2 separate regions of the Homo sapiens genome follow, and region 2 is linked to region 1. Evidence: fine-mapped expression QTL. A gene starts in region 1. The other region holds a variant in brackets. All regions are shown on one strand. Distances are from middle to middle.

Region 1 (4,384 bases):
AGAGAGAGGAAAAAATCGGCAGCTCATGGCAGCTGCTGGGCCTTGGTGGCCCTGCCCTCCTTAAGCCCTTCAGCTCTGCTCTTGGAGTGTCTCCCCAACCCGATGCCCTACCCTAGACTTCTGGACATCAACACAGTCCAGCCCTGCCTCCTCCCCCCAGGTTTTGTCTCCTCAGTGTCCACCCACTTCTGTCTCTTCTGTCCTCCCGGCTCCCTGCCCTCTACTGGCCAGCTGCCCTTGCCAGCCACCTCCTCCCTCCCCACATGCCCAGTGCCCTCACCAGCACTCGGTCCTCAAACTTCTTGGGCTTTGTCTCCAACTTCACATGATGTTGTTGGAGCACGGCCCCTTGGCTCAGGCACCTCCGGATGCTGTCTGAGGGGGGGTGGGAGCCTGCTCAGAGCTTCACCTTACCCTGGCCACCCCCACCTCCCAGAGCTCTCCAGATAGAGGCAGGGTCAGGGTCAAATGGGATAAGAGAGAAACAGAGAGACAAAGAAGGGAGGACAGGGACAGAGGGCATTCCTTCTTGGGTGACTTTTCACACTGTCTCTTTTTTGACTTTTCTCTTCCTATTAGAGAGGGAGTAGGGTGTGGAGAAAACTCCGGCTCCTGATGTCCCTGAGTCAGGGGACGGTTGCTGACTGTCTGTGGGAGGGTGTGTCTCACACTTCTGAGGGTGTGAAGAATTTTTCCAACCCATGCACTACAACAGCCATTGACACATACAAAGTGAGTCACTGTGTGGGGGTGTGGGGTGTCCCTTTGACTATATTCTAGGTGGTCCGGGTGTGAGTGTCTGCCTTTACTATGAGAGTGTGCATGCCTCCTGGAGATGTCAGGGAGCCTGAGTGTGGCATTGGTGGGGACAGGTAAGTGTGAATGAGTATGCTGTGGAAGGGGCACAGAGCCAGACACTTCCTCTGTGTGTGTTGGGCGGGGAGAAGAATTAATGTTTAAATGAGCCCCATACCCATCTGCTGGCAGAACCACCCAGATATAGTGTGTGTGTGTGTGTGTGCACGCGCGTGTGCTGGGGTGCCATCTCTGTGAAGATGTGTTTACACACGTCTAATGATTGTGCTGTGTGTGTGTGCAGGTGTGGGAGATTGCCACGGCGCAGCATGCCTCTGAGTATCCACGAGCATCCTGCGCTTTGCGTGGGCTAGCCTGTGCTCCCGTCTCTGGGGGTCAGGGTTGTGGCAGTGCTGGGTGGCCGGGCCTGGGTTTGGGCTAGGTCTGAGAACCATGCAAACGGGAGAAGCCTTGATGTGTGGGTGGTGGGTAGCGAGAAGGAAGCAGGCTGGGACGGGGCTGTGGGAGGCGAGCCTCAGAGACCCTCCTGCTCTTGGTTTTAGCTCCAATCCAGGGCCTCTTCCCTGACTCCTTTCTTTGCCCCACTGGCCTGGGCGCTGCCCAGCTCCTAAGGGGCTCTTCAGGGCCAGTTCCGGGGCGGGGCCGGGAGGAGGGAGGGTGTTAAGCCACGCAGCGGTCAGGACCAGGGGCAGCTCCCATCGCAGGGAGGGGCGGGCTTGGCCCCGCCCGGCGGGGAAGCGGGGACTCTCCGGATGGGAGACTGGACGCTTCGCCGAGGGTGGGCTAGGAACGCCGAGAGTCAGCCCCAGGGAGCGCCAGGGAACTGCACCTGTCACCGAAGGGCGGGACGGGCGGCTCCGGGACAGGAAGGTCCCGACCGGGTGAGGCGAGGCAGGCAGCGGAGGATGCTCCGGGGACAGCGATGCCCGGACTGGAATGCAGGGGCTGCCTTGGAGCCAGGATGCATGGGGTGAGGGGTGTGAGACACCGGGCTGGGATGCACCACGGGGAGGAACGCGCTGGGTCTGGGATGCTCCCGGACGGGGCGTCCCAGAGACCGAGGCAGCCTCGTACCTTGCAACTCGCGGGTGAGCTCCACGCTGGGCTTGGCCATGGCGGCCGCTGCTGCTGAGGCTGCTGCAGAGGAGCCGCCGCCGCCGCCGGGGAGCCGCGGCACATGCTAGACCCGGCTTCAGCAGGGCCCGGGCGCTGAGCGCTGCAGCAGCGGCCGAGCCCGCTCCGGTCAGGGGCGGCTGCTTGAGCGCTCCTCCCCCCGCCTCGGAGCGCCGGCTCCCCCGCCCAGCAGGGAGAGCTGCCGGACTGAGCATGCGCTCCGCGCTGCCGAGCCGCGTGAGACCCCGCGCGCGCTCGCGCCGACCCTTCTCGCTGGCTCCCGCGTGAGCTGGCCGGTGTGCGTCGCCCGGTGTCCGGGCCTTCGGGGCGGGGGGCAGCGTCCCCGCTTTCCATCTACTCAATCCTCGGGCCCGTGGGCAGAAGCCATTTCTTTTGTTTGTGGGCCCGGGCACCTTGCAGGGCCTTTCTCTATTCCCCACCGGCTCAGGACCCCTCCAGCTTGTCCTTGCTGACTCGGGACCTAGGGCCATGCTGGGAGAGGGCATGGCTGGATCTGGGAGGCGAGGGGCGGGGAGGTGTTAGAGAGTTCCTCCTTCCCCACCCTCGCCCGACTCGCCCTGCCTCGGGGATCCCCGTGGCGTCCTGGGAGTTCCTGTCCCACCTTCCTTCCAGTTGGCAGCTCTGCAGACACCTCCACCCCTGAACATCACGCTCAGGTCCTGGAGACAGGGAGGAGGGCTGGGGGATCCAGAGATCCAGCCTGGCCAGACTTCTGCTCTCTGCTCAGCTAAGCACCCCGCACTGAGAAAACGTCGATTCGATTCAAAGCCGCGCAATCATCTGCATTTTATTTGCACCTCATTTGCAAGTTGTTAATTTGCAACTCTGCTCCTTCCACTCCAGCTTCCTTCTCTCTCATCTCCCCTCAAATTCCCCAGTGGCCTGGGCAAAAAATATCTTGGTCTTTGCCAAGGTAGACTCAGCCTTGTCAGCAGGCCTGTCCTGTGTTCTCAGGGGAGGCCTTTACCCAAGGCCACAACAACAGCAGGAATCCCGAGTAAGACACCACCTTGACGGCAGGGAAGGCTGGATCTTTTCACAGGGCAGAACTGATTTGATGAGGTGAACAGTAAGGTGAGCAGAGGTGGGAAAGGCCAGTGGGTGAATGCAGGAACAGCACCAGGAGCTAGAGCCCAACTCTGGCCTGTGGGCTGTCTCCGGGTCCTCAGAGGCGGGACGGGGTTCCTCCACCCACCATCACTGTTTCCCCAGTGAGGTAGCTGGCATCTTCAGAGCACAGGAAAGACACGATGCCAAGAGAATCCTCTGGCTCGCCTAACCTGGGGAATAGGGGAAGCAAGGAAGGGAGTAAAAATCAAACAGGTCTGCCTCCCTCACCTGGGACACGGGGAATGAAATTTGCTTAATCAAGAATTATCAGATAACTTTTCAGGATCAGTGTACAAACTTTCCGCCTATCAAATAGGGTTACCATGAGGATATGCTGTTATAATTTAGTATAAGCATACTGTACTCTGCAAAAACCATTACCCATAATATTCAAATACTATAGAGACACTGTTTTTTAGAGAGCTCAGGACACCAAAATCCAAAGTTATACAGGTAAAATAGTAATTATTTCATACTTCAAAAAAATGGTTTCACATGTGCACACACTAAAGTATCAGGGAGTCTGTGTGACAGTAAATGGTGTGTTTAAAATGATTCCATTTGTACAGGTTCAACTTAGAGACAATTTTTTCAGGAATCTATACTTGTCCCTTAAAGTCAGGATCATTTGGTGAGAATGTGCTAATTCTTATTTTATCAGTGACTGCATAGTTAGGAGACACTTTAATCTGCCTGCCATAGAATGCTCTAGAGGTGGGCAGAGTAACTCAAACCTAGAAGGGCTGAATTAATGCTTCTCCATTCTAGCTGTACCTTGCAATCATTTGAGAGGCTTAAACAAAAAAAGAAAAGAAAAGACAAAGAAAAACAAAACCCTAGATGGTCAAGTCCTACCTTGGACCAATTAAAAAAGAATCTTTGGGAGTGGGTGGGGCCTGAGCACCTGCAGTTTAAAAAGCTCCCCAGGTGATTCTAATGTGCATCCAGTATTGAGCTACATGGGCTAGATCATTCACTGGAGCTCTAGGTTGACAATCCCCTGACTTATTAATGAGTTATGAACTAGGCCTGTAGCTCATGCCTGACATCAGAATGGCTTTGGGAAGATTTGGGATGTCTGGACCAGTACGGAATTAGGCATTGCTGGCATTTGTCCTTGAGGGACAAGATGGAGAAACTAGATAGTGCCCAGAAGCCAGAAGGTAGAGAGAGGCAGGGAACTTAGAGGAAAGGGAGCCCGACAAAGGTGCTTGAACAGTTCACCCAGCTCACTGGGGAAGAAAGTAACTCCTTAGGCAAGGGGAGTTTGGGGCTTAGTAAAACTCTTCATTCTTTTCATTTGGATTGTAGATCATCAACCTGA
Region 2 (4,384 bases), 78 kb after region 1:
AGTCTATTTTGGCTTTTGTTGCCATTACTTTTGGTGTTTTTATCATGAAGTCTTTGCCCATGCCTATGTCCTGAATGGTACTGTCTAGGTTTTCTTCTAGGGTTTTTATGGTTTTAGGTCTTACATTTAAGGCTTTAATCCATCTTGAGTTAATTTTAGTATAAGGTGTAAGGAACGCATGCAGTTTCAGCTTTCTACATATGGCTAGCTAGTTTTCCCAGCACCATTTATTAAATAGGGAATCCTTTCCCCATTGCTTGTTTCTGTCAGGTTTGTCAAAGAGCAGATGGTTGAAGATGTGTGGTGTTATTTCTGAGGCTTCTGTTCTGTTCCATTATTTCTGAGGCCTCTGTTCTGTTCCATTGGTCTAGATATGTTTTGGTACCGGTACCATGCTGTTTTGGTTACTGTAGCCTTGCAGTATAGTTTGAAGTCAGGTAGTGTGACGCCTCCAGCTTTGTTCTTTTTGCTTATGATTTCCTTGGCTATACTGGCTCTTTTTTGGTTCCATATGAAATTTAAAGTAGTTTTTTCCAATTCTGTGAGGAAAGTCAGTGGTAGCTTGATGGGGATAGCATTGAGTCTATAATTTACTTTGGGCAATATGGCCATTTTCATGATATTGAGTCTTCCTATCGATGAGCATGCAATATTCTTCCATTTGTTTGTGTCCTCACTTATTTCCTTGAGCAGTGGTTTGTAGTTTTCCTTGAAGAGGTCCTTCACATCCCTTGTAAGTTGGATTTCTAGGTATTTTATTCTCTTTGTAGCAATTGTGAATGGGACTTCACTCATGATTTGGCTCTCTGTCTATTATTTGCATATAGGAATGCTTGTGATTTTTGCACATTGATTTTGTATCCTGAGACTTTGCTGAAGTTGCTTATCAGCTTAAGGAGATTTTGGGCTGAGATCATGGGGTTTCTAAATATACGGTGAAATCATCTGCAAACAGAGACAATTTGACTTCCTCTTTTCCTAATTGAATACCCTTTATTTCTTCCTCTTGCCTGATTGCCCTGGCCAGAACTTCCAATACTATGTTGAATAAGAGTGGTGAGAGAATGCATCCTTATGCTGGATTCGGTTTGCCAGTATTTTATTGAGGATTTTTGCATTGATGTTCATCAGGGATACTGGCCTAAAATTTTCTTTGTTTTGTTGTGTCTCTGCCAAGCTTTGATATCCGGATGATTCTGGCATTATAAAATGAGTTAGGGAGGATTCTTTCTTTTTCTATTGATCGGTATAGTTTCAGAAGGAATAGTACCAGCTCCTCTTTGTACCTCTGGTAGAATTCGGCTATGAATCCATCTGGTCCTGGACTTTTTTGGTTTGGTAGGCTATTAATTATTGCCTCAATTTCAGAAGCTGTTATTGGTCTATTCAGCAATTCAACTTCGTCCTGATTTAGTCTGCAGAAGGTGTATGTGTCCAAGAATTTATCCAATTCTTCTAGGTTTTCTAGTTTATTTGCATAGAGGTGTTTATAGTATTCTCTGATGGTAGTGTGTATTTCTGTGGGATCACTGGTGATATCCCCTTTATGATTTTTTATTGTGTCTATTTGACTCTTCTCTCTTTTCTTCCTTATTAGTCTTGCTAGCAGTCCATTTTGTTGATCTTTTCAAAAATCCAGCTCCTGGATTCATTGATCCTTTGAAGGTTTTTTTTTTAATGTCTCTATCACCTTCAGTTCTGCTCTGATCATCATTATTTGTTGTCTTCTGCTAGCTTTTGAATTTGTTTGCTCTTGCTTCTCTAGTTCTTTTAATTTTGAGGTTAGGGTGTTGATTTTAGATCTTTCCTGCTTTCTCTTGTGGGTATTCAGTGCTGTAAATATCCCTCTACACACTGTTTTAAATGTGTCCCAGAGATTCTGCTACACTGTGTCTTTGTTCTCATTGGTTTCAAAGACCATGTTTATTTCTGCCTTCA[G/T]TTTGTTATTTACCTAGTAGTCATTCAGGAGCAGGTTGTTCAGTTTCCATGTAGTTGTGCAGTTTTGAGTGAGTTTTTCAGTCCTGAGTTCTAATTTGATTGCACTGTGGTCTGGGAGACAGTTTGTTGTGATTGCTGTTCTTTGGCATTTGCTGAGGAGTGTTTTACTTCCAATTATGTGGTCAATTTTAGAATAAGTGTGATGTGGTGCTGAGAAGAATGTATATTGTGTTGACTTGGGGTGGAGAGTTCTGTAGATGTGTATTAGGCCTACTTGGTCTAGAGCTGAGTTCAAGTCCTGGACATCCTTATTAATTTTGTCATGTTTTCTGTCTAATATTAACAGTGGGGTGTTACTGTCTCCCATTACTATTGTATGGGAGTCTAAGCCTCTTTGTAGGTCTCTAAGAACTTGCTTTATGAATCTGGGTTCTCCTGTATTGGGTGCATATATATTTAGGATAGTTAGCTCTTCTTGTTGAACTGATCCCCTTACCATTATGTGATGGCCTTCTTTGTCTCCTTTCATCTTTGTTGGTTTAATGTCTGTTTTATCAGAGACCAGGATTGCAATCCCTGCTTTTTTTTGCTTTCCATTTGTTTTGTAGATCTTCCTCCATCCCTTTGAGAGGTGGCAGTGTGCTGGCAGCCCTCGCTCACTCTTGGCACCTCCTCAGCCTCAGCACCCACTCTGGCCACGCTTGAGGAGCCCTTCAGCCCGCCGCTGCACTGTGGGAGCCCCTTTCTGGGCTGGCTGAGACTGGAGCTGGCTTCCTCAGATTGCAGGGAGGTGTGGAGGGAGAGGCATGGGCGGGAACTGGGGCTGTGCGCAGCACTTGCAGGCCAGCACGAGTTCTGGGTGGGTGTGGCCTTGGCGGCACAATGCACTGCAGAAAGCCACAGGGACCTCTGCCCTTGAAAGCAGGGTATTGTCCAAGGTTTCTCCCCATGTGATAGTCTGAAATATGGCCTCATGGGATGAGAAAGACCTGACTGTCCCCCAGCCTGACACCCATAAAGGGTCTGTGCTCTGGTGGATTAGTAAAAGAGGAAAGCCTCTTGCAGTCGAGATAGAGGAAGGCCACTGTCTCCTGCCTGCCCATGGGAACTAAATGTCTCGGTATAAATCCCGATTGTACATTTGTTCAATTCTGAAATGAGAGAAAAACTGCCCTATGGTGGGAGGCGAGACATGTTTGCAGCAATGCTGCCTTGTTATTCTTTACTCCACCGACATGTTTGGGTGGAGAGAAACATAAATCTGGCTTACGTGCACGTCCAGTCATAGTACCTTCCCTTGAACTGAATTATGATGTAGATTCTATTGCTCACGTTTGTTGCTGACCTTCTCCTTATTATCACCCTGCCCTCCTACTACATTCCTTTTTACTGAAATAATGACGATAATAATCAATAAAAACTGAGGGAATTCAGAGACCGGTGCCGGTGCAGGTCCTTGGTATGCTGAGCGCCGGTCCCCTGGACTCACTGTTGTTTCTCTATACTTTGTCTCTGTGTCTTATTTCTCTTTCTCAGTCTCTTGTCCCACCTGACTAGAAATACCCACAGGTGTGGAGGGGCAAGCCACCCCTTCAAGCAGTAGCAACCCGCTTGGGTCCCCTTCCACACTGTGGAAGCTTTGTTCTTTCACTCTTTGCAATAAATCTTGCTGCTGCTCACTCTTTGGGTCCACACTGCCTTTATGAGCTGTAACACTCACCGTGAAGGTCTGCAGCTTCACTCCTGAGGCCAGTGAGGCCACGAACCCACCAGGAGGAATGAACAACTCCAGACAGGAGGAACGAACAACTCCAGACATGCTGCCTTAAGAGCTGTAACACTCACTGCGAAGGTCCGCAGCTTCACTCCTGAAGCCAGCAAGACCACGAACCCACCAGAAGGAAGAAACTCTGAACATGTCTGAACATCAGAAGGAACAAACTCCAGACACGCTGCCTTTAAGAACTGTAACACTCACCGCGAGGGTCCGCAGCTTCATTCTTGAAGTCAGTGAGACCAAGAACCCACCAATTCCAGACATACCTTCATTTTGGGCCTATGTGTGTCTTTGCATGTGAGATGGGTCTCCTGAATACAGCACACCATATGGGTCTTGATTCTTTATCCAATTTGCCAGTCTGTGTCTTTTAATTGGGGCATTTATCCCATTTACATTGAAGGTTAGTATTGTTATATGTGAATTTGATCCTGTCATGACGTTAGCTGGTTATTTTGCCCATTAATTGATGCAGTTTCTTCATAGCATCAATGGTCTTTACAATTTCGTATGTTTTTGCAGTGGCTGGTACCCGTTGTTCCTTTCCATGTTTAGTGCTTCCTTCAGGAGCTCTTATTGTAAGGCAGGCCTGGTGGTGACAAAATCTCTCAGCATCTCCTTGTCTGCAAAGGATTTTATTTCTCATTCACATACGAAGCTTAGTTTGGC

The links. PIP is the estimated chance that this variant, and not a neighbour inherited with it, causes the effect. A credible set is the group of variants that fine-mapping cannot tell apart.
Region 2: its variant is the best candidate, but not a certain one, in a credible set for the expression of CARMIL3 in monocytes (BLUEPRINT, PIP 0.85).

The regions. Positions count from the first base shown.
Region 1 is chr14:24,049,700-24,054,083 of GRCh38, reverse strand. CARMIL3 (capping protein regulator and myosin 1 linker 3) reads right to left here and starts at 2,075. Exons shown (of 40, transcript NM_138360.4): 1 at 1,891-2,075; 2 at 281-375. The coding sequence starts at 1,930. It also overlaps the pseudogene DHRS4L1. RefSeq lists an enhancer at 718-1,417 and silencers at 1,433-1,602, 1,623-1,712, 1,983-2,282.
Region 2 is chr14:23,971,720-23,976,103 of GRCh38, reverse strand. It overlaps a transcript of DHRS4L2 not described here. Among named protein-coding and RNA genes, the nearest start is that of DHRS4L2, 15 kb to the left of the region's middle. The variant G/T (reference allele first, on the strand shown) is at 1,939.